Linked DNA regions of Homo sapiens. The protein of the gene in region 2 purifies or fractionates together with the protein of the main gene of each other region. This does not show direct contact. Each region holds a gene or a part of one and is shown on either strand. Other genes may lie near its edges. The genes, in order: PTTG1IP, EPHX1, CDK11B and RIOK2.

Region 1 (4,711 bases), on a different chromosome or scaffold from region 2:
GCCTTCTGAAAGTCCTGGAAGTCCTACCTACTTTGCTGTGAGTGGTGATAACCTGTATACGTATGCAAAAATGCACTGAATATATGTACGCACACACGTGTGCATTATGTAGGCTATAAGCCGCGGTCCATGTAGGCACACACGTGTGCATTATGTAGGCTATAAACTGCGGTCCATGCAGGCACACATGTGTGCATTATGTAGGCTATAAAGTCCATGCAGAGAGAGACTTCAGATGTGTGCACTTCATGAGAAGCTACATGCCATTAAAAACACCTCCAGAACAGGTGTTCCAAAGGGCAAGGCTCCCCAGGTCCAGGAGCTGTGTCTTCAGAGTGGTCATTAAGAGAAGTTCCATGGAAGGGATGAGTTCACAAACACACATGCATCACACACAGTACACACATCACACATGAAGGTGCACACACACCACCACCACCCCCTGCCAGACATCCCACACTACAACCACCACCACCACACAAACTTTTGAATTCTCTAGGGCCTCAACACCAGCAACAAGTTGTTTCAGATGGAGGCTGATAGATTTTGAAATGGAAATCAATTAGAAGAGTGGTAAGTAAGACGTAAGTTGCAGAGGGATCCAAGATGCAAATAAACAAAAAGAATCATCAAAACACCTTAAGAAAATATTGCTTCTTTACAAAGTTTAGGAACCCTATGTATTACCCCAAAACCTGAAGCCTAAAAGATTAATAAATTCAACTACATAATAATGAGTTCTAGGTTACAAAACACACCACAAACTGATTTAAAAGGCAAACTACGGGGCTGGGCGCAGTGGCTCACGCCTGTAATCCCAGCACTTTGGGAGGCTGAGGTGGGCAGATCATGAGGTCAGGAGATCGAGACCATCCTGGCTAACACAGTGAAACCCCGTCTCTACTAAAAAATACAAGAAATTAGCCGGACGTGGTGGCGGGCACCTGTAGTCCCAGCTACTCAGGAGGCTGAGGCAGGAGAATGGCGTGAACCTGGGAGGCGGAGCTTGCAGTGAGCCAAGATAGTGCCATTGCACTCCAGCCCGTCTCAAAAATAAATAAATAAATAAATAAAGGCAAACTAGAAAACAACTTGAATCTCACAAGAGCTGATTTCCTTAATTTAAAAACGCCTCCAAAATCAAATATACAAAGATACGCACACAAAAAAAGAGGGCTGTCTACGCAAGCAGGGATTCTTAAGCTGGGAAAACTGGAGATTCTAGGGGAATTCACAGGTGAGTTTCAGGGGTGACACATGAACAAAACATACTGAGCAGAGAAGTCAAACACGTTGCCTTCAAACTCACCCTTTTCCCCACACCTTCTGTAACGTGGTGAGATAGAGCTCAGTGCTGGGGCTGACCACCTTGAAGGAGGTCCTCCAGGTTCCCCAGGGCTGCTTTCCCGGTCAGCAGATCACCCCTGGCTTCCCAACCTCTCCCTGGGAGTCACAGAGCTACTGGCAGCACATTTTCTAGCAACTTCTGCTAACTGAGCACATAATACTATTTTCTTTTTTTTTTGAGACAGTCTCGCTCTGTCGCCAGGCTGGAGTGCAGTGGCACGATCTCGGCTCACTGCAAACTCCGCCTCCCGGGTTCAAGCAATTCTCCTGTCTCAGCCTCCCAAGTAGCTGGGATTACAAGTGCATGCCACCACGCCCACCTAATTTTTGTATTTTTAATAGAGACGGGGCTTCACCATGTTAGCCAGGATGGTCTCAATCTCCTGACCTCTTGATCCACCCGCCTCCGCCTCCCAAAGTGCTGGGATTACAGACGTGAGCCACCGCGCCCGGCCCATACTACTATTTTCAAAGAAGCATCGATTTTGCAAGCAGCAAATGAAAACAATGACTTACCCCAACAAACTCCCCAGCGTGCAGAGCTCAATTTACAAAGGGAAGCCGGTGGCAAGACGCTTGTAACTGGGTAGTCCAGACAAGCCTTGTTAGTGTTGCACCAAAGACACTGAAAGAGACCAACATTAAGCAAGCATTAGAAACAACAGAAAAACCAAAGAACTGTCCAGGCTCTGCCCACAGCCCGCCAGTGCTGCCATCGCTCTGTGGATGGCTGTAAAGGCTCAACCTCCCCCTCAACGCCTCATCTCTGCCTTCACCCTCAGCGCCCTTCGGTCCACACCCAGCACAGCGGCCAGCAGCCCTGTCAGCTCTCCACGGACTCATCCAAGGCCCGCGTCACTCAGGCCTCTTCCACAACTCACCCTGCTGAGGCCACGGGGCCTCTGTGTTGGCAGCCTCCTGAGTGCTGCCAACCCCACCTCATGCTCTCAGCCTCAGCTCAGCCTGCCGGTTCTGCCTGGAGCACTCTCCCCACATCTGTGTGGCTCCCCACTGACTGGATGGGCCCTGCCTCGATCAACAGACTGGACACAACCAGCCGCCTCCACCCCCTCCTCCTCACCTCCTGTGAGGTTTGCTTCCGTAGACCTCTCCTCCCCACACGCCGGGCACCTGTGCACTTCACTGGCTGAAGTCTCCCAAGAACACAGGACACAGCCTGGCCCATCACAGGCACTCACTGAGTTTGTGTTGAATGGACTTGGGTGAGCATGGTCACCATCTGTAGCAAGGACCATGCTTCCTACCTCTGACCTTCACAACTGCACTAAGTCGCACAGCTTGAAAGATGATGCAACTACGGCTCAGCCCGCCCTAAACTGACAGCTGGAGAGAACCTCATAGACGCTCTTGTCTGAGCCCCTTGAACGTCAGGTGTGAGGCCGCAGTGGTGTGGAGACAACACCATCACACCCGTGTGTGTGTGTGTAAGAGCCCAGAGCTGGGCCCAGCCCATGCCACAGCAGTACACAACGAGGCCCGAAAGCGGTCTGTGAGCCAGGCACTGAGCGTGACAGGGGACAGCCTAGCACGCAGGCAGATGGCACAGGAAGGGGTGAAAGAACTGCTGTTCGGGTCAGGCACGGTGGCTCACGCCTGTAATCCCAGCACTTTGGGAGGCCAGGAGGGCGGATCACCTGAGGTCAGAAGTTCGGGATCAGCCTGACCAACATGGAGAAACCCCATCTTTGTTAAAAATACAAAATAAGCCGGGCGTGGTGGCACATGCCTGTAATCCCAGCTACTCCAGAGGCTGAGGCAGGAGAATCGCTTGAGCCCAGGAGGCGCAGGTTGCGGTGAGCCGAGATCGCACCATTGCACTCCAGCCTGGGCAACAAGAGTGAAACTCCGTCTCAAAAGGAAAAAAAAAAGAACTGCCGTTCGGCAGCACCTCATGCGCCAGCCCAAGTCCAGACCCAAGTCCAGACTGCCTGTTACTCCCAATCTCCACATTAACAGTGTTACTGACTTTTTAATAGGATAGAAAGTCATGGCGTTTTTGGCCCAGGTTAGGGCAAAAGTCTATTACAAAAAAATATTAATTACAATGTCCCCTGGGCCTTCTTTCCCAGGGCTACTTATACAGTGACCACCTTAGTGTCGTGTTTAAGTGGTTTCCAGCATAATGTAACAATTAACAGTTAAACCCTGTTTATTCTGGTCATTTGGGAGTATCTTCCATTTCAGGGGTTTTGCTTGCAATTAACGATTTTTGGCTAATCCTCCCTTTTCAAGTGGCTCAAGTTGTAAATGTCTGATTTTCCATTTTTCCATGACAGTGGTACCATGAGCCACAGGACTGCACTGGGAGGATACGGTGTTCTCTGGTGGTTGTGCTGCTTTTCTGATCGATGAAGTAATATGCACATAGCAAGCAGCTCAGGCAGCAGCACAGACACACAGCCCGCCACGGCCTCGGCAACACAGAGACACACAGCCCGCCACGGCCTCAGCAGCACAGAGACACAGCCCACCACGGCCTCAGCAGCAGAGACACAGCCCACCACGGCCTCAGCAGCAGAGACACAGCCCACCACGGCCTCAGCAGCAGAGACACAGCCCACCACGGCCTCAGCAGCAGAGACACAGCCCGCCACGGCCTCGGCAACACAGAGACACACAGCCCGCCACGGCCTCAGGAGCGTGGACACAGCCCACCATAGCCACTGCTCCAACACGCAGGTCCTCTTGAGACCTCCCAGGCACTGACACCTCCTTCCAGAAACCTCCTGTGTGCCCAAGAGCACACCCACACACGCCTGGAGCTACTGTAGGGCAAGCGGCCCTCTTCACCGCCCTGTCTGGGTTCAGAACTGGAGTCAGGCCTTCAGCCCTTCTGGACTGGCCCCATCCACAATGACCTGGGCAAGTCCCTCAGCCGCCTCATCCACGAGATGGCTGTCATCACCACACCCTGCCCAGGGTGGTGAGGGTTACACAGGGTACTATGGCAAAAACGCACTCTAGGCTACAAAGCCACATACAATAGTGAGCTATGTTTAAAGCTGAAATGACTTCCAATAGAAAAATCCAGAGACTAAAAAGAAGCACCATCTAGAAAATGCACCAGGACCAGGCGCATTAGAGCAGGTTCAACATCACCAATGTCAAGATCTGAAACCACAGAAACAGCGTCTTTCAATTTTTAATCAGCAAATGCAAGTATCCACTTAAGTCCCACAAACTGACAGGGTGTGTCTCGAACCTACGCTACGGTCTCGTGGAGGAAGAAGAGTTTTTAAGAACATGGCTCATGCCTTAGAATAGAAATCATCGAATACATCTTTCCCGGCCTCCTCAAACCTACGCTACGGTCTCGTGGAGGAAGAAGAGTTTTTAAGAACAT
Region 2 (4,711 bases):
TCGAGGCTGCAGTGAGCTGAGATTGCACCATTGCACTCCAGCCTGGGCAATAAAGCAAGGCTCTGTCTTTAAAATTAAAAGAAAAAACAAGTTATTCTAACTTTTTTTAATTTTAAAAGATTAAAAAAAGAGAATGTCAAGGACTGAAATTGCATAGAGGGCAATGCTTTTTCTTTATAGGTGGTGAACTGGGTTCTGCTTGAGTTTTTTCTCTGGTAATTTAGAACCAATGGAAGCAACTCAACAGCTCTAATTTTAATTGGCAGAATGTGAGATGGAATGGGACCTCAAATGAAACTCCAGGCCAAGAGCTCATGAGCCCTGCAGCATGTGGGGCATCTCTCGGTCTTCTTGAGTTCTGTAACTTAAAGTTTGTGTGGCCTTTAAAGAGTGTGGAAGTAGCCGTCCCCTCTCCGAAGGTGCACAGGATTTGGCCAGCCCACCCGCGTGGCCTTCCCCTTCCCCTCTCCAGACCCTCCACAGCAGATGGGGCCACGGAGGCCTGGAGAAGTGGAGTCACTGACCTGAGGCTACATGGCTGGCAGGCAGCAGGGCCAGGCAGCAAAGCAGGCAGTGAGGGCCTAACTGCCCGCGGGCTGGCTCGGGGCTCCCTCAACCACATTGGCATCCCAGTGCCAATCCCAAATTGTTTTCTTTCTATCTCTCCAGACATGTAGATAGCATGGAGGTGGAGGGAATTCCCTCCCACACAGAGGGCGATATGCCCCAGAACAGCACTCCTGCCCCCAAGAAGGCTGTCTCCTGACACTTTTTACTGCTCTTTTACTCTCCCCCAGCTTTTTTTTTCCTGCTTGTAAACTGCATTTTTCCTTTCCCTTGGTTTCTGGCTCTAAGCTGTTTTCCCAGGGCTTGGCTCCGGCGCTTGCACAGAGATAAACACGGCCATTGGCCTGGTGCACAATCCCAGCTTGCCTGCATCCGGCCTCTTCCATCCTGAGTCTCCAGGGGTCCCTGGGGTTCAGGGACAATGGCTGAGGGAGAAGCTGGGAGTTCCCCCCAGGGTTTGCCTCCGTCACTCTTGGGCCAGCCAAGGGAGTGGGGCTGGGAGCTTCAGGATGGCTTTTGGGAAGCCCCTGGGAGCCCCAAGGCTTGGGTAGCTGCTGACAGGGAGTTCACAGCAGGAACGCTCCCAGGCTCCCATCCTGCGTCCGCTTGGCAGGCAGGCCAGGAATGGGAGGGAAGCCATCCGTTTTTCCCTTTCCACTGGATGTTCCCTTCGCCTTCCCCAGGGAGGAGTGATGAGGCTGGGGTGCTGGGGAGGGCAGTATGGGGGCAGGCTTGGGACCAGGCCTGCAGAAGCAGCAGACCCTCCAAGCCCACCTACCTCTCTGGCCTGGCATCTGAGGGGCAGGTCATGCCATAGTTTTTCCCTTACCCTCTCTGCCCCCACACTTTCCTCCCCAAAGTGGCAGACTTCCCCCAGGAGAAGCACTGGCTTTTCACGCTGCTGTGAGTCTCAGTCACTATTAGAGAAACACAGTCAGAGCCAGGCCTGCCCAACTGTCGCAGGGCTGGGTCCACCTCATGGCCTTTGTTCTGGAAAAATACTTGGGCATTCTGCCCTGCAATGCACTTAGCCAAGGCCGGGCACATGGCAAGTGCTGAGTCATGGCCGGCTAGCACTTTACTGCGATTTTAGGAGCACTTTCTTGTGGTGAGGTTCTGACTGCTTGCTTGGGTTGGGGGAGGGGAGTCTTTGGGCAGGCGGTAGACCTGCCCTTTACTTTGTGTGGCCGGATCTGAGTCTGACCCCATCTTTTTAGACCCAAAACCCTGATATTTGTAGTGCGCCTAGGATACTGGTTCTCCAGTCTTCTTTGGGGTCAGGGGGCGTTATAGTGCCTCATGCCACCTACTCAGCCCTCTTCCTGCATCTTATGGTCTGTCTCTACCAACTAGGCTAAGTAGGTTATATTTATTATTCCTCAAGGGGAATTCAGCTCTTCTTGTTCAAAAGTTCTGATTAATTTTCTATGCTCTCATTCAAAGAATTTTTAAATTCATTCATTCATTCAACAAATAATTAAGCTTCTACTAGAATGCCAGGCACTGAGAGTCCAGATGGGAGCCAAAGCAGACATGGTCAGTGGCCTACAGGAGCTTCCGTCCAGCTGTCAGTCACATAATCACCCTGACAAATGTGAGCTCGACGAAGGCTAGGACTGAGAGATCTGCCTTGCTGGGATAGGTCAGGAGAGGCTACCCAGAGGAGGGACAGTCAGTCTGAAATCTGAAAGGTGGATAGAAGTTAGGGAGGTGGGAAGGGGAGGGAATAGCTTTTCGACAGAGGGATTCGCCTTCATAAAGCCCCACAGTAAGACAGCATGGTGAGCACAAAACTGAAAGATCGGGGGGCAGCGTGAGATCCCAGCCCTAAAACTCTCACTTAGCTTTCAAGTAAACTGTTTCTCCATAATATTGATACCAGTAGCACTCTGAGGGGCTAGGGGAGTGGTGAGATCACACAGGCCTTGAAGGCCACACTAACCCAAGGACAATGGGAAGCTCTTTAAGGGTTTCGCAGGGGATGGGATATACATGATCAGATTTGCATTTCCAAAAGATCACTCTGGCCTGGCTCATGCCTGTAATCCAGCTATTTGGGAGGCTAAAGCAGGAGGATCACTTGAGCCCAGGAGTTTGAGACCAGCCTGGGCAATATAGTGAGAACCTGTCTCCATTAAAAAAAAAAAAAAAAAAAAGGTTTGTATGGTGGCTCACGCCTGTAATCCCAGCACTTTGGGAGGCGGAGGCGGGCGGATCACGAGGTCAGGAGATTGAGACCATCCTGGCCAATATGGTGAAACCCCATCTCTGCTAAAAATACAAAAAATTAGCCGGGCGTAGTGGCGGGCGCCTGTAGTCCCAGCTACTTGGGAGGCTGAGGCAGGAGAATGGCGTGAACCCGGGAGGCGGAGCTTGCAGTGAGCCGAGATTGCGCCACTGCACTCCAGCCTGGGCGACAGAGCGAGACTCCGTCTCAAAAAAAAAAAAAAAAAAAAATACAAAAATTATCTGGGCATGGTGGCATGCGCCTGTAGTCCCCGCTACTCAGGAGACTGAGGCAGGAGACTTGCTTGAACCAGGGCGGAGGTTGCAGTGAGCCGAGATCGTGCCACTGCACTCCAGCCTGGGGACAGAGAGAGACTCCATCTAAAAAAAAAAAAAATGTTTTAAAAAGATTGCTGTGGCTTCAGAGTGGCCATTGTGTTGGAAGGGGTAGAGCAGATGTGAGTGGACCGGGCAGGGTAGTAGTCCAGGGGAGAGCCACAGGAACCTGGGCTGGGTTGGAGATGGATTTGAGATGTACTTTGGAAGTTCAGCTGCCAGAACTTACTGATATCTGTGGCGGAGTGAAGGAGAGGGGTTTCAAGGACGTTGCCTGGGTTTTTGGCTTGGCAGTAGCAGGGCGGGTAATGTCAGTTACTGAGGGAGGGAACACCAAGAGAAGACAAAGTTTAGGGGGACAGGATCACAGTGCGATTTCAGATGCACTGGAGAAAATTTTGACACAAGGTACTGTCTGGGCCCCAGGTGGCTCTGCTCTAATACATTTATAACTCTTTGTCCGCACTTAATCACTCTGTCATACTTAGCTGCCAGGGGGCCAAGAAATGTCAAGTGTTTGGCTGGTCTTCTCCAACTAAAATTAAAAATCCTTTGCTAAGGAAGAAGGAGAGAACATTGCTAGCAGTCTGCCTCAACATCCCAATCTGATGGCGTATTTGCCGCAGCCACCAGCTCATCAAGGACAGCTGCGGTGAACCTTTGAGTTCTGAGTAATCTCCTGTCTGGGCCACCTTTCTTCACTCAACCACAAAATCCTCACATTCCCAAGTATATTTTCTTTCTTTCTTTTTTTTGTTTTTTTGAGACAGAGTCTTGCTGTGTTCCCCAGGCTGGAGTGCAGTGGTGTGATCTTGGCTCACTGCAACCTCCGCCTCCTGGGTTCAAGCAATTCTCCCTGCCTCAGCCTCCTGAGTAGCTGGGATTACAGGCATGCCCGGCTAATTTTTGTATTTTTAGTAGAGACGGAGTTTCACCATGTTGGCCAGGCTGGTCTTGAACTCCTGACCTCAGGTGATCTGCCCACCTTGGCCTCCAAAGTGCTGGGATTACAAGCATGAGCCACCACGCCTGTCCCCAAGTATATTTTCTTAGCTCACTCTTTTCAGCATGTAATTTACAGAAGGGTAATCTGAATTGTAAACACGATTTCTAAGTTAAAACTCCTGGGTCAGCTCGTGATGAAGTAGCAATTTATAAAAGAGATAGTATAGTAATAAATGAGACAACTACACTCGGAAATGTGGAATCATCAACTCTTATGCGAAAATAGCCTATGAGACTCTTGTGTTTTTTCATTCATGCCATGCGCTTCCTCACTTCCATCCCATTCCATTCCACATGCTCTTCTTTCTGCCTGGATTATTCCCATTCCACCATTATTTTTCTCCTGGTAAACTCCTATTCATACTTAAAAACCCTGCTCAATGACCCCTTCTCTGTGAAAACTTTGTGGCAAAACCTAACCACTTCTGCTTGTGCACACTTCTCTTCCATCTGTGTGCATATAGTATGTGTCTATAACTGGAAGGGTGTTTATCTGTTATCCGTTTGTCTGCCCTGCTAAAGTGTGAGCTCCTACAGTTACAGGGTTGTGTGTTAGTCCTGGTGCCTGCACAGTACC
Region 3 (4,711 bases), about 220 Mb from region 2:
ATGAGATAAACCATAAAGGTGAATTTGGGGAAATGTTTTTAAACAAACAAGCTACCACCACCCCAAAACTAGTGCCTTTCACGTAACGATTAACTTTGCTTGGTCGGAAACCAGCTCATCCAGAGACGCTGGAAGCCACTTCTCTAACGGGGCCAGTGGCGAATGTCCCAGCGGATAAACACACGTCCTGTGTCCTGGCCGCACACAGACACTCACGGTCCCTCTCACGACACGAGAGGACTTCAGCCAGCACATCTCTCACTTTCTTCTGAAGCGGTTACTTAGCTGGGCTTTAAATGAATCCTACACACTTATGCCAAACATCCCCCAGAAAAGACTCACACTGTGCTGGCTTCTGCGCAGGCGCCGGCCTGGCCTCACCTGGCTTCCGGCCGTCTCCCAACTCGAACCGCTCCCGCGGCGGCCGAGGCGGGCTGCGACTCCAGTGGCTGGCTTTCACTTTGTCGCTGTAGTCCTCTCTCATCGTTCGGTGATGTGCAGACACTGGCGCGCAGGGCAGAGAGGGAGATGGCACTAGCAGCACTGCCTTCCTCAAAAGGCCCCACCCGGCACAGCTGCCTCGTCTCCCACACCCGCACCTGGCAGACACACCCACAGCGTGCACAGGGTGCTGACAGCATCGGGGTCAGAGGCCAGAGGTCTCCCAGGAAGCCCAGGGAGAAAAAGCTCCAACCTGGAGGCCGTGAGCCCGAGGACCCAGGTGGACCTTCTAGACTGATCTTCACTGGTCAAAAAGGAAGGGGCGGGAGAAGATTCTGGAAAGATGGAGTAGGAAGCACTGGGAATCAGTCTCCCCACCGAGACAACACTTGCATCACAGGATCAGGCCTGTGCAACTACTGAGGTGCTCTGGAGTCTACTGAAGGTTTGCAACTTCAGGGGGAATCTTGGAGAGTAAACTGTGATTCATTAATCAACGTCACCGCTTCGCACATTAGTGGCTCCCACCTCACTCCCCGCTGGCAGGCAGCAGCCTGCATGCAGCTCGCCGGACCCAGGTGGGCAGACGGACACACACACCCGAGGTCAGTGTGATGACTGCGTGTCCCACCCCAGAGGCATGAAGAGGCAGCAGCCACGGCCACCCCCAAGCTGAAGGTACTTCCAGGGCATGAGCACCACGTCCCCCGTTGCCCCCTTCATTTCTCTCTATTCCCCCTTTAGGAGGCAGACACTTCAGGACAAGAACATTAAAAACATCTGTATTGACGGGAACGTTAAAAAGTGGCTGCACGTGACCAGGAAAAGGCTCAGGCTCAGAAAAGACCCGTGAAGACCCTGAGTTTCCACAACAGGCCGACCCCACAGACACAGCCCAGCACAACCAAAACAACAAGTGCACACCCTTGAGTGGGGACCAGGAAGAATCACATCATGAGAATCAAATGTCCATTTTTTTGACTAAGAAAAACACAAGAGAAACAAAGAAATAGGACAGTATGTCCCATTCAGAGGGGAAAAAAAGAAGCCAACAGACACGGTTCCTGAAAATCACCTGACGGTAGATGTCCCAAAGACTTTAGGGAACTGTCTTAACCTTCAGTTCCTCAGAGAACGAAAGGAAGATGTGGAGAAAGTCAAGAAAATGACGCGTGAACACGACGGAAATATCAACAGAGACAGAAGATCCAACAAGAAACCAGAGAGAAATTCCAGAGCTAATAAGTACATGCTCACAATAGACACTAAAAAGTAAATATTCACAACAGAAACTCACAGGCAGATGTGAGCAGGCAGAAGAAATAATCGGTGAGCCTGAAGACAATAAAATCACATCGTCTGAGGAAAAGAAAGCAGAAGAGACTGAAGAAAAGGGAGCAGTGCTGAGCGGCCTCGGGGACCCCAACAGATCTGTGGGAGCCCAGGAGGGAGGAGAGGAGCAGAGAGGGTATCTGAAGAATTCCTCAAAACCCCCACATTGGATGAAAACCGTAAATATAAACATTAGAGAGGCTCAGTGAACTCCAGGTAGAATGAAGTCAAGAGGCCCACAGGAAAACCCATTATTAAACAGTTGAAAGCCTAAGGCAAAGAGAATCTTCAAAGCATCCAAGGGATCCTCAATCAGGTCATCAGATTAAAGCATCCAAGGGATCCTCTATAAGATCATCAGATTTCTCATCAGAAACTTTGGAGGCCAGAAGACAATGGGCTGAAATAGTCCAAGTGAAAAGGAAAAACTGTCAGCTAGGCATGAGGGTTCCTTGAGCCCAGGAATTCAAGACCAGCCTGGGCAATACAGGGACACCTTGTTTCTACTGAAAAATGAGCCAGGTGTGGTGGCACACGCTACGCCTGTAGGTCCCAGCTACGCGGGAGGCTGAGGTGGGAAGATCACTTGTGCCCAGGAGTTCGAGGTTGCAGTGAGCTATGATCGCTCCACTGCACTCCAGCCTGGGCAACAGAAGAAGACTCTGTCTCAAAACAACAACAACAAAATTGTCAACCAAGAACCACGTATCCAGCAAACTTTCCTTCAAAGATGAGGGAGAAATGAGGATATTCTCAGATAAACAAAAGCAGAGGGAGTTCATTACTACTAGACCTAGACCTGCCTTGAAGAATAAGCTCCAGGGAGTTGTGTGGGGTGTAAGGAAAGGACGCGAGACAGAAACCGGAAGCTGGGTGAAGAAATAAAGATCTCCATTAAGGTGAGGACGTGGGTGACTATAAAAGCTCGTACTGGCCGGCCGCGGTGGCTCACGCCTGTAATCGCAGCACTTTGGGAGGCCGAGGTGGGTGGATCACGAGGCCAAGAGATCAAGAGACTATTCTGGCTAACACGGTGAAACCCTGTCTCTACTAAAAATATAAAAAAATAGCTGAACATGGTGGCGGGTGCCTGTAATCCCTGCTACTCCGGAGGCTGAGGCAGGAGGATCACTTGAACCCGGGAGGCAGAGGGTGCAGTGAGCCGAGATCGCGCCACCGCACTCCAGCCTGGGGGACAAGAGCAAAACTCTGCCTCCAAAAAAAAAAAAAAGGCAGGGGCGAAAAGCAAGCACCGGAACCAAGCGCCCGCCTGTGACAGCAAGTGCCCAGCACCAGGGGGCAGCAGACACGCGTCCCGCCGAGCACAGCTGCCCACCGCGCCGCCTACCTTCCCTGCGGGCCTCCCGCTCCTTGCGCCGCTCCTCTGCCCGCCGCTCGCGCTCCTTCTGCTCCCGCTGCTCCTTCTGCTGCTCCCGCATCTTGCGCTCCCGCTCCCGCTTCCTTTCTAACTGCTCCAAGCGGTCCCTGAAGAGGCACACGCCATCATTCCCCCTAAACAGAAGCTTGCTTATCGCGTTTTTGTCCACATTTGTAAACTGGCTTTCTACGTAATTCAATCCGTGAAGTTTTTTTTTCATTTTTTTATTTTATTTTCTTTGAGACGGAGTCTTCATCTGTCCCCCAGGCTGGAGTGCGGTGGCGCGATCTCGGCTCACTGCAACCTCCGCCTCCCGGGTTCGAGCGATTCTCCTGCCTCAGCCTCCCGAGTAGCTGGGATTACAGGCGTGCGCCCTGTACTCCCAGCTAATTTTTGTATTTTTAGTAGAGACGAGGGTTTCACCATGTTAGCCAGGATGGTCTCAATCTCCTGACCTCGTGATCCGCCTGCCTCCGCTTTTCAAAGTGCTGGGTTTACAGGCCCGAGCCACCGTGCCCAGCTGCCATTTCCAATTCTAATTAATAAATGATCCATTTCTTTCCATTCGATCGGTGTTTGCTTCATGGATTTTGGGCTCTGTGGTTAGATGCATTCACACGTATCATTGCTGTATCTTCCTGCTGTATTGGCCTGTTTCTGGCTGTGAAGTCCTTGCTCCTTCTTGTTTCTAGCTTTTTTTTGAGACAGGGTCTTGGTTTGTCACCCAGGCTGGAGTGCAGTGGCGCAATCTCGGCTCACTGCAACCTCCATCTCACGAGTTCAAGTGATTCTCATACCTGAGCCTCCCGAGTAGCTGGGATTACAGGTGTGCGCCACCACACCCAGGTGATTTTTGTAGAGACAGGGTTTCACCATGTTGGCCAGGCTGGTTTCTAATATTTCTTAACATCTGTTTTGTCTGGTATGAGTACAGCCATTCAAGCTCTCCTATGACAGCTGATGTTTGTACGCTGCGTCTTTTCCTGTTCTCTAGCAGACAGCATACAGTTAGATCTTGTTTTTCTATCTGATAATCTGCCCTGTCTGTTTGGGGCACAGAGACCTTTCACATGTCATATAATTACACGTACAGTTGGATTTACTTTCCTTGCTTTGTTGTGTCTTTTTTATTCTTCCCTTTTTGATTTTAAATTACATATGTTTAGCATACCATTTTAATTTATTTGTACTTTTTAAAACACTAAGAAAACAACTTTCTTAGTGGTTGCTCTAGGGATCACCGTATGCCTCATGATACTAGCTCAAGTCCAGTACAATATAAAACTGTTGTAACACAGCTTTATTCCCTGTCTTCTTTGTGCAGTCCATTTATGCCACATACCATGACAACAGTGTAATTATTTTATACAATCGTAGTTCCAGTAAAACCTAAGATGTGAGGAGAGATAGTTACAGGATATTGACGTCAACCTACACTTGCTATCTGCAGTGCCTGTCCTTCCTTCCTGAGGATTCAAGTTACCGTCTGGTGTCATTTCTATTCAACTTGAAGGTCTTCCTTTAGTATTTCCTTTAAGGCAGGTTTCGCCAACAATGAAT
Region 4 (4,151 bases), on a different chromosome or scaffold from region 2:
TTCTGTCGATTGCTTTTTAACTTTAGTCTTGAGACTGATACTTTGTTAGATTCTAGTAAAAGAATGTTTTTTTCAAATGATGTGACAAAATTGTATTCTGCCACCTTGATGTATAAAATGAAAGCCAAATAATTTTTTGTTGTTAAAAACTCAAAATAGCTTCCTTTTCAATTGACCTGATTCTAGGCAGCCTATTGACTAAATTTCAAGTAATTCTGCCTTAAAATACAAACTGATGGCTGGGCACAGTGGCTCGCTCATGCCTGTAATCTCAGCACTTCTGGGAGGCCAAGGCAGGCAAATCACCTGAGGTCAGGAGTTTGAGACCAGCCAGGCCAACATGGCAAAACCCTGTCTCTACTAAAAATATAAAAATTAACCGGGCATGGTGGCCTGTGCTTGTAATCCCAGCTACTTGGGAGACTGAGGCAGGAGAATCACTTGAACCTGGGAGGCAGAGGTTGCAGTAAGCCAAAGATCGTACCACTGCACTCCAGCCTGGGTGACGAGCAAAAAACTCCGTCTCAAAAATATATATATATATACAAACTGATGATTTTAAAATTATTGCAGGTCTCTGGATACATTGATCAGGTTTTAGATGGATGAGTTATTCCTCATATATTTTCCTAATTACACATCTGATGTGTGTTTGAGTTATGTAAAGGCATGTAAATATTAAAACATGCAATAAATGTACTTTCTATATGAAACATCTGCAGTGAATTTTCTCTAGTACCTTGAGCCTTCTATCCTTTGTTCATGTGTAGTTAAAATTATCTAATGATATTATGTTTTCTTTTAATAATTTTTTTTTGTAAATATTAATCAGGCTCAGCTTAGATTAGGAAAAGTTCTAAAACTTAATTTTTGGATTTGGGATTGCTTATTCAGAATCAAATTGTAGTTAAATGAAATATTGGTTTTATTTATTTCAAAATAGTAATATGACAATTAAAATTAGTTCAGCAATACATTTATTAAACATTTTTCAGTACATGTTTGGGCTTATATCTTAAGCCTACCTTTATCTTTAAAGTTTTATTCCTGAAGCAAAACATGAGAATTTTGTTCCTTTTTCATATAGCTGTGTATCTGTGTCACAGGGCTACTGCCATTTAAATAATAAACTTGGAAAATTAAATCAGAAGCTTAAAAGGAAAAGAGGGGTGACAGAGGCTCAGGATTTTGAGTAAGTGATTGTATTAGACTGGATTCTTCAAAGAAACAGAATAAATAGGAGATTTATTTTAAGGAATTAGCCCATGGGGTTATGGAGGCTGAGAAGTCCCAGGATCTGTAGTCAACAAGCTAGAGACCAAGGAGAGCCCATGGTACAGTTCCAGTCCAAATCCAAAGAGCTAAGAACCAGAAGAGACAATAGCATAAGTTCCAGTCCACATCCAAAGAAAGGAGAGGACCCATGTCCCAGTTCAAAGACAGTTCTCTCTTACTTTGCCTTTTTGTTCTCATCAGGCCTTCAATGGATTGGATGAGGTCCACCCACACTGGGGAGGGCAATCTGCTATACTCAGTTTATTGATTCAGAAACGCCCTCAAAGACACACCCAAGTTAATGTTTAACCAAATATATGGCACCCTGAGGCCCAGTCAAGTTAACATATAAAATTAACCATCACAGTGATAGAAGAAAATCTATATAGGATTAAATGGTCTTTTAAACTCAGAATGGGAACAATAATTTTGTTCCCACTCTGGATACATGCTGGGCAAAACTTCCATTCAAAGTAAAAGCAGAACAGCAGATGTTGCTGAAAAATATTAACTGTTAGGAGTTAATATCGTCCGAGTTTTTATACATTGCATATATTGAAACTTTGAGCCATGTGAAAAACATTAGTCTCTAGGTTGCAGATTTTCCTACCCTAGTGGAGCTGACTATAATGAGTACTGTCTGTTTCCATTATATCTTCTGTTTGTGAAGGTGGAAAGAGTCTCAAAAATTTAGATAGGGAGAGACAGATTTATATAGTTCAGTGAAAGAAGAGGAGAGGATTATTAGAAAAGGGAAGATGAATTGTGGGGAGGTGATAAATTTCAATGGCTTAAGCATTCTACTGTTTTTAAATTTTGATAGTGACTAACAAAATGCTGGAAAATGAAAATTGTTAATGTATAGAACTTAACAGTAGGTAGTTTTATCTTCACAGAAATTTTAAAATATAATGATCTTTCTGAAGTATTTTATGTCTTCAGTTTTGCTGCATGCAAAAAATAATATAAATTAATCAAATGGGATTCATTACATTATACAAATTAACTAGATAAATTGTGGGTTTTTTAATTTTAGAGATGAAGAAAATGTGGGAGCTATGAATCAGTATAGAACAAGAACTCTGAGTATCACTTCTTCAGGCAGTGCTGTAAGCTGTTCAACAATTCCTCCAGTAAGTAGTCATTCAACATGTACTGAATGTTTATTACATCACTACTGTGATCTGATTGCCTTGTCTCATTAAACAATAATGTATGCCTTTCAGGTACAGACTTCTGTTGATTGCTTTTTGACTTGTCTTGAAACCAGTACTTTCTTTGATTTTAATAAATGAATGTTGCTCAAAGGATGTGGTAGAGTTGTGTCCTGCCACCATTATGTGTAAAATGAAGGCCAAATGACTTTTTGTTGGTAAAACTCAAAACACCTTCTTTTTCAATTGTCCTGATTTTAGGCAGCCTGTTGACTAAATTTCAAGTAATTTTTTCTTAGAATACAAACTGATGAGTTTCAAAAAATTAATGTAGGTCACTTGATAAATTGATCAGGTTTGAGGTGGATGAGTCATTCTTCATATGAGCTGAAGATTAATGAGCTTGGTCACTGTGAGGATTATAAGGTGTGTAAGCCTCAGACACTTGGACGTACATGTTAATGGTATAAAATTTTGTTGTTGTTGTTTGTTTTTGTTTTTGTTTTTTTTTTGAGATGGAGTTTTGCTCTTGTCATCCAGGCCGGAGGTCATCCAGGCTAGAGTGCAGTGGCATGATCTCAGCCCACTGCAACCTCCGCCTCCTGGGTTCAAGCAATTCTCCTGCCTCAGCTTCCCGAGTAGCTTGGATTACAGGCGCCTACCACCATGGCTGGCTAATTTTTGTATTTTTAGTAGAGACAAGGTTTCACCATGTTGGCCAGGCTGGTCTCGAACTCCTGACCTCAGGTGATCCACCCACCTCAGCCTCCCAAAGTGCTGGGATTTCAGGCGTGAGCCACTGCGCCCAGCCATTTGTACTTGGATATAAGTACAAATTTGGCCGGGCATAGTGGCTCAGACCTGTGATCCCAGCACTTTGGGGGCCAAGGTGGAAGGATCGCTTGAGCCCAAGAGTTTCAGGCCAGCCTGGGCAACATAGCAAGACCCCTGTCTACAAAAAATTTAAAAGTTAGCCAGGTGTAGTGGTATACACCTGTATTCCCAGCTACTCAGGAGACTGAGGCAGAAAGATCACTCAAGCCCAGGAGGTTGCAGCCACCGTGAACTGTGTTCCTGCCACTGCACTCCAACCTGGGCAACACAGCAAGACCCTGTCTCAAAAAAAAAAAGAAGACCCTTGTTCCTGGCTTTGCAGAGTTTTGCAGCTATCTTCTTTTTTAGGAGAAAAGTTGAATGATACAAGGTTATATACAGTTATTAAATAACAGACTGTAGTGCTTCAGAGAAAGAAAAGGTCATTGTGAACTGAGTATTTCACATTTCTTATTCATCTTGTAAGTCATGTGACTTGCACAGTGTATCTTAACTGATAAGTAACTTGAATTTATGATCAAAAGACATATGAAGACTTTTCCATGGGTGATTGCTACCATCAGGTCAATTCTACAGCTGAAACTGTGAAGGCATTCTTGGATATATTCAGCAATACTGAATGCTTTCAAAAATAATTTTCTATACAAAATCTACTCTAAAAGCCTACTTTTAACCTAAAAAGCAGAGGAACAAGCAGTTTCATCTTGTTTTTTCCATCAGTTTTCATGATGGACACTAGGTGGCACTATGGTAATTTTTTAAAAATTCTGCCTATACACTATATTTTTTGCTATATAATCTGTATTTCTGTTTGGAATTTAATTTCTCCTATATAACAGTTTCTATATAGTACTGTCAGTGTTTGGAATCTTAAAATTCATGGTGTCA

Evidence for each region.
Region 1: the proteins of EPHX1 (region 2) and PTTG1IP fractionate together in Homo sapiens (co-fractionation; one large-scale study listed by BioGRID). This does not show direct contact.
Region 3: the proteins of EPHX1 (region 2) and CDK11B fractionate together in Homo sapiens (co-fractionation; one large-scale study listed by BioGRID). This does not show direct contact.
Region 4: the proteins of EPHX1 (region 2) and RIOK2 fractionate together in Homo sapiens (co-fractionation; one large-scale study listed by BioGRID). This does not show direct contact.

The regions. Positions count from the first base shown.
Region 1 is NC_000021.9:44,859,300-44,864,010, forward strand, and holds part of PTTG1IP (pituitary tumor-transforming gene 1 protein-interacting protein isoform 1 precursor), read right to left. Parts: exon of another isoform or gene 4,669-4,711; intron 4,571-4,668; exon of another isoform or gene 4,494-4,570; intron 1,973-4,493; coding exon 1,864-1,972; intron 1-1,863. UniProt on the Homo sapiens protein: May facilitate PTTG1 nuclear translocation.
Region 2 is NC_000001.11:225,816,224-225,820,934, forward strand, and holds part of EPHX1 (epoxide hydrolase 1), read left to right. Parts: intron 1-4,711. UniProt on the Homo sapiens protein: Biotransformation enzyme that catalyzes the hydrolysis of arene and aliphatic epoxides to less reactive and more water soluble dihydrodiols by the trans addition of water.
Region 3 is NC_000001.11:1,642,005-1,646,715, forward strand, and holds part of CDK11B (cyclin-dependent kinase 11B), read right to left. Parts: intron 3,286-4,711; coding exon of another isoform or gene 3,259-3,285; coding exon 3,122-3,258; intron 505-3,121; coding exon 382-504; coding exon of another isoform or gene 343-381; intron 1-342. UniProt on the Homo sapiens protein: Plays multiple roles in cell cycle progression, cytokinesis and apoptosis. Involved in pre-mRNA splicing in a kinase activity-dependent manner. Isoform 7 may act as a negative regulator of normal cell cycle progression.
Region 4 is NC_000005.10:97,163,308-97,167,458, reverse strand, and holds part of RIOK2 (serine/threonine-protein kinase RIO2), read left to right. Parts: coding exon of another isoform or gene 1-20; exon of another isoform or gene 21-713; intron 714-2,311; coding exon 2,312-2,408; intron 2,409-4,151. UniProt on the Homo sapiens protein: Serine/threonine-protein kinase involved in the final steps of cytoplasmic maturation of the 40S ribosomal subunit. Involved in export of the 40S pre-ribosome particles (pre-40S) from the nucleus to the cytoplasm.